Linked DNA regions of Homo sapiens: region 2 is reported to be linked to region 1. The links are microRNA targets in miRTarBase. Many come from high-throughput screens and were not tested one by one. Region 1 holds a microRNA gene; the other region holds the end of a gene's coding sequence.

Region 1 (3,000 bases):
TACTGATGTGGAAAGATGTTCACAGCATATTGTTTGGAAGAGGAAAAAAAAAAACAAGTTACAGAACAGTGCAATTCCAAGTTACAAATCAGTATATTCAGGATAACTCCTTTTTTTTTTTTTTTTTTTTTTTTGAGAATGAGTTTCGCTCTTTTGTCCAGGCTAGAGTGAAGTGGCGCGATCTCGGCTCACTGCAACCTCCGCCTCCCGGGTTCAAGCGATTCTCCTGCCTCAGCCTCCCAAGTAGCTGGGATTACAGGTGTGTGTCACCACGCCCAGCTAATTTTTGTATTTTTAGTAGAGACAGGATTTCACCATGTTGGCCAGGCTGGTCCGGAACTCCTGACCTCAGGTGATTCACCCGCCTCGGCCTCCCAAAGTGCTAGGATTACAGGGGTGAGCCACCGTGCCCGGCGACTCCATTTTTTAAAAATAAGATGTGATCTATATGAACAGGAAATAAACAGTCTGGAATATACATGACAATTAAGTGGTTATCTTTGGGTCATGTTACATATTTCTCATTTTTTTCTTTATGCTTGGCAGTATTTTCTAACAATTCTATAATTAAATATTTTTAAATAAGTTGTTAGAACTGATGATTTCTAACATTCCCGCTGCCAACTCTGACATTTTGTGCATCTATGACTGATGCCCTAAGCAACTTCAAATAGCCCATATTTAGTGTGGACTTGCTGTGTGGCCTTTGGGGTCTAAAATTTTGCCCACAGCTGCAGCCCTCTGCATTCCTCTCTCCCACACTCGCTGCCCAGCTGTCTCCCCTGCTAGCCTGGGAGCTTCTGCTTGGCAGGACCCAGCTGCACCCCTGTCTGTAATCCATGTGCCTAGCCAAGAGCTAAGCAAAGGAACACAGCTCAGCATACTGACAGGTGCCTTGCAGGCACAATGATAAAAGGTACAACCCTAGTGCTAGAATCTTACTGGACACCAGACTCACACAAAGTGCTTGGTTGTATCACACAGATGCAGAAAACCAAAGGAGAGAAAGCAGGGCAAGCTGGGCTGGGAGAGCCTAGTAGAGGAGAAGGCCATGCAGGACGGGTGAGTGAGGGTACTCTGGGCCAGGGGCATAGCCTGAACAAAGGTGAAGCCACCCACAGTCCTTTGGGATCCATGCCTCAAAGCTTTCCAAGAAACTTTCGCAATCCTTGTTCTGCTAAATTTCCGTACTTTGGCCCCAATGGGTAAAAGTTAAGTCTCCTAAACAGAAGTCCTCCCTCTAATCTAACCCTGGATTAGCCACCAAAGACAACAACAATCTTTTGGGACAAAGACAATGAATTACCATTTAATCCACTTTCCCCAAAGCTCCCAAAGGGAGATGAAGGAGGGGAGGGTCAGGGAAAGTTTGGGGGAGGAGAGGGGGTTGCAGGAACAACCAGAACATCTCACATGCAAACACTGCTCACCCCCACCACCAGGCCATTGGATTCTCTTGCGGCACCACCAGCCCCATTTGACAGATGGAGGAAATGAGGCTCGGAGAGTTCAAATGGCTTGCTCCGGGGTCACCCAGCCAGAGAGTGGGGAAGGTGACTCCACTCAGGCCTTCTGACTCCAAGTCCAGTGCTATTTCTAGGTAACACACAGGACCTGGAGTCAGGAGCCCTGGGTGGCTCTGTCACCCTCTGGCTGCATGGTCCCATACAAGCCGCTCACTCCTCGCAGCCTCTTTCTCCAGCTGTAAAATAAGGAGGAGCACACTGGGCCCGCCCAGGTCCTCTTCCGGCTGGGCTCTCCGAGCCTTCTAGGGGCGGCTCAAAGCTCATCCTATCAATTACATTTCCCAAGTTGGGCCGGCAAAGATCACCAGAAGATCCTCGGCCTGTCATGTGGTTAAATAAAAAAAGCAAATGTCCCAGATTAACTTTCACTGCACTGCTCCTGCAAACACCTGAGTATTCAATTTTCTAGTTTCCTTAGTTGAAATATTTCTGCTAGCTAGGCTCGCTGGGCGGCTAAAGGGCAAAATAATTAATTATTGCTGAGCCAAACACTGAAGATCGAGTTAAAATCCGGGGTACAGTCCAAAGCGGACAGTTCTTGACATGGGTCCCTGAACGAGTCTCCGGCTATTTCAGGCCTCTCTCATCCGCTTTTCAGCCAAGAGATTCGGAGACGCCCCAGGGCAATTTCGAGATCTGGGGACAGAATCTTCCCAGGAGTGACTCTGCCCCTCCTCCCGCACTCAGTGCCCGCTAGCCCCAAGCTGTCGGCTCTGGGGGTACTGAGGCTGGGACCTGCCTTCGGCGCAGACACCGGCGCGGGGCGTGTGACGGAGCCCGGCGACGACGGCGGGAGCTCCACCGCAGTTTCGTCAGAGGTAAAGGTACGCGCCCGGCGCGCGCGGCGTGTGCACACACACACACACACACACACACACACACACCCGCGCGCGCAACCCGCTCATCACACATTCCCCTCGATCTCGAGAAGCGCAATCACACGCCACTAGCCCCTCCGGCCTCTGCCGCGAACCCACCCGAGCGCGCCCGCCACCGACCACGCGGCCCCGCGGCTCCCCTACGCAGCGGCGTCTGCAGCGGGCCAGGGGCGGCCTGCCTCCCGCGTGGCGGGCTTCCTCTCGGCGACACCCTGCCACGCCACGCCGTCCCAGCCGCCAGCCCGAAGTCGCTGCCCGGAGCTGAACGTCTCGGCTGCGGCGTCCCTTCCAAGTCGCGTTTCACCGCAAGGAGTCAGCTTGCAAGCCTCTCCCCGCCCACCCGGTCCCATGACAGCTGCTGCCGCCCAAAGACAGGCAGATTATAACAAGAAGCAAAGTTTCCCTCTCTCTCCTCCCACCTCCCTCCCCCAATCTCCGCCTTCCCCCTCCCTTCCACTGTTATGCAAAACGGGCCGGCACCGGCGCTCCCACTCCAGGTACCAAACCAGCCCCCGCGAGCCGCGCCCGGTTCCGCCCGGCCGCCCCTCTCCGTGCCCAGGCGTGTGCCAGCACCCGGGGCTCCTCCGAGGTTCCGC
Region 2 (3,272 bases), not on the chromosome of region 1:
GCTGACTTTGAGGCCATGGAGCAGCTGGACGCTGATGGTGGACCCCTGCATACACGTTCTGGGCAGGCTGCTGCCCGCGACATTGTGCAGTTTGTACCCTACCGCCGGTTCCAGAATGTGAGTAGGTGCAAATTTGATCTGGGAGTTTACCCTTTCACCTTTCCCTGATGTGAGTAGGGTTGAGGCCCAAGGGATGCTCACCTTTTCCTCTAAGCCTGGGATATGGTTGGGTTCTTGAGCATGAAATACAGACTTTGGGCAGCTGTTCTGGGCCACCACTGACTTTTCCCTTTTCTTGGCAGGCCCCTCGGGAGGCATTGGCACAGACCGTGCTCGCAGAAGTGCCCACACAACTGGTCTCATACTTCAGGGCCCAGGGTTGGGCCCCGCTCAAGCCACTTCCACCCTCAGCCAAGGATCCTGCACAGGCCCCCCAGGCCTAGGTTCCCTTGGAGGCTGTGGCAAGTCCTCAATCCTGTGTCCCAGAGGTCCCTCTGGGCCACAACCCAACCCTTCTCACTCTCCTCAGTGCTAGCACTTTGTATTTTTTGATACTTTTATACTTGTTTCTGCTTTTGCTGCTCTTGATCCCACCTTTGCTCCTGACAACCCTCATTCAATAAAGACCAGTGAAGACCAATGCTTTGCCACCACTCTCTTGTGTGTTTTTAGGTAGGAGGCTGCTATGAGCAATGTTTACATCCCCTCTCCACACCTTAGTTTGTTTACTTAGGGGTTGTTACGTGAAGGATGTCTCTGGTGTAAAGCCCCACTCAAAGTTGAGTATTTCTGGGCAGATATCTATTCATTCTAGAGACACTGACTCACTGTTTTTGAAAATACAGCCAGGGGTGGGTATCATGTACCTGTAGTCCTCAGCTTGGGAGGCTGAGGTGGGAGGACTGCTTGAGCTCAGGAGTTCCAGAGCAGGTCTGGGCAACATAGCAAGACCCCATTACACACACAAGAAAAGGAAATACAAAGTTTGAAAGTAAGCTAAACACCCAGCCTTCGCCTTCCCTCCCTCAGGGCAGAGCTGGGCTGGGAATACAAAGATGGAAAGTGTCAGACTTCATAAAAAGCAGCAAAAGGAGAAGGATGGATGAGTTTTAAGGTGGAGCAAAGGCTATGTTAGACTTCCTGGAGGGGAGGGAGTAGTGGTAATTTTGGTCCTAAAGACAAGTGAAAATCCTGAATTTTTTTAACAGCTAATTTTTTCTTAATAGAGAATACATGTATTCATTGTAGAAAAATTCTGGCTGGGCGTGGTGGCTCATGCCTGTAATCCCAGCACTTTGGGAGGCTGAAGAGGGCAGATCATTTGAGGTCAGGAGTTCAAGACCAGCCTGGCCAACATGATGAAACCCCATCTCTACTAAAAATACAGAAATTAGCTTGGTGTGGTGGTGGGTGCCTATGATTCCAACTACTCAGGAGGCTGAGGCAGGAGAATCGCTTGAACCCAGGAAGCGGAGGATGCAGAGAGCTGGTATTGCACCACTGCACCCCAGCCTGAGCTACAGAGCGAGACTCTGTCTCAGAAAAGAAAAAAATTTTAAGTGCAGAAAAAATATCACTCAAACTCCCATGTCCTGATAAAACATATTGGGCACATAACTTTTTGTCTACACATACTGTTTTAGCATGTGTTAAAATTTGTTTTTTCTAATTTTAAAATACGTGCTTGTTAGTATGAAGTTATTTCAAATATAAATATTGTACAAATAGGCCAGGTGCAGTGGCTCACACCTGTAATCCCAGCACTTTGGGAGGCCGAGGCAGGCGGATCACAAGGTCAGGAGATTGAGACCATCCTGGCTAACAGGGTGAAACCCCGTCTCTACTAAAAAATGTAAAAAATTAGCCAGGCGTGGTGGCGGGCGCCTGTGGTCCCAGCTACTGGGGAGGCTGAGGCAGGAGAATGGCGGGAACCCAGGAGGCGGAGCTTTCAGTGAGCTGAGATGGCGCCACTGCACTCCTGCCTGGGTGACAAAGCGAGACTCCCTCTCAAAAAAAAAAAACAAAAACACATTGTACAAATAGTGGAGCAGGTAAGGGCCCCTGTTTTTCCTAGATCTGAAAAATAGATTTTTATCAATGGGCTATTTATACGTACTACTTGGACCTTTTTATTTAATACATTTTGGTGTCTTACCTATCAGAACCTATTGCTTCATTCCTTTTTTTTTTTTTTTTTTTTTTTGAGACGTAGTCGCTCTGTATTGCCCAGGCTGGAGTGCAATGGCGTGATCTCAGCTCACTGCAACTTCTGCCTTCTGGGTTCAAGCGATTCTCCTGCTTCACCTCCCAAGTAACTGGGACTACAGGCACGCACCACCATGCCTGGCTAATTTTTGTATTTTTAGTAGAGATGGGGTTTCACCATGTTGGCTGGTCTTGAACTCGAGACCTCAGGTGATCTGCCCACCTTGGCCTCCCAAAGTGCTGGGATTACAGGCATAAGCCACTGCACCTGGCCATCATTTTTTTTTTTTTTTTTGTAGGAGTGTACCTTATTTAGCTCATCTCTTATTTATGGAGATTTGAGTCTTAGTTTCTTTCAATGCTGTAATGAACATCCTTGTACATATATGTCTGTGCACTTAACTGGAATGTTTCTGAAGAAACATTTGTTCTGAAGAAACATTTATTCCTAAAAGTGGAAATGCTATATCAAAGGTTATATTTTAAATTTTAATAGATATTGCAAATTATTCTTCATAACAAAAATTATGGTCAAAGTTACACCTTTTGTTAATCTGACAGGTAAAAAAAGAAGCAAAAAATCATTTTTAGTTTGAATTTATTTTATTTTTTATTTTATTTTTATTTTTTTGATGGAGTCTCACTCTGTTGCCCAGGCTGGAGTGCAGTGGCACCATCTCAGCTCACTGCAACCTCCGCCTCCCAGGTTCAAGTGATTCTCCTGCCTCAGCCTCCTGAGTAGCTGGGATTGCAGGCATGCGCCAGCACGCCCGGCTGATTTTTGTATTTTTAGTAGAGACGGGGTTTCACCATATTGGTCAGGCTGGTCTCAAACTCCTGACCTCGTGATCTGCTCACCTCGGCCTCCCAAAGTGCTGGAATTACAGGCGTGAGCCACCACACCCAGCTCGAATTTATTTAAATATGAAGGATCGGTATCTTATATGGTTATTTGTAAATTATAGTTCTTCTCAATAGCCTATTCATAGTCTGCATGTATGTGTTATAGCTTTTATTTTGTTAAGGTTATTAGCCCCTTCATCTCATACATGTTGAAAATATTTCTT

What was found. The annotated mature microRNA hsa-miR-378a-3p reads ACUGGACUUGGAGUCAGAAGGC and lies in region 1 at 1,568-1,589, opposite strand. An mRNA with a match to its seed (bases 2 to 7 or 8) in the 3' UTR can be bound and repressed. Matches are read on the target gene's strand: a 7mer-m8 pairs with bases 2 to 8, a 7mer-A1 pairs with bases 2 to 7 and ends in A, and an 8mer does both.
Region 2: the mRNA of CPNE1 is a reported target of hsa-miR-378a-3p. The part of its 3' UTR that is shown has no 7-base or 8-base seed match.

Annotation. Positions count from the first base shown.
Region 1 is chr5:149,731,456-149,734,455 of GRCh38, reverse strand. It overlaps MIR378A (microRNA 378a), which reads right to left and starts at 1,631; the gene lies at 1,566-1,631. The region is part of intron 1 of PPARGC1B (PPARG coactivator 1 beta); the gene reads right to left. RefSeq lists silencers at 2,479-2,708, 2,739-2,828, 2,849-2,898, 2,909-3,000.
Region 2 is chr20:35,623,412-35,626,683 of GRCh38, reverse strand. It overlaps CPNE1 (copine 1), which reads left to right. Exons shown (of 16, transcript NM_152925.3): 15 at 1-117; 16 at 303-640. The coding sequence ends at 443. Among named protein-coding and RNA genes, the nearest start is that of SPAG4, 9.2 kb to the right of the region's middle.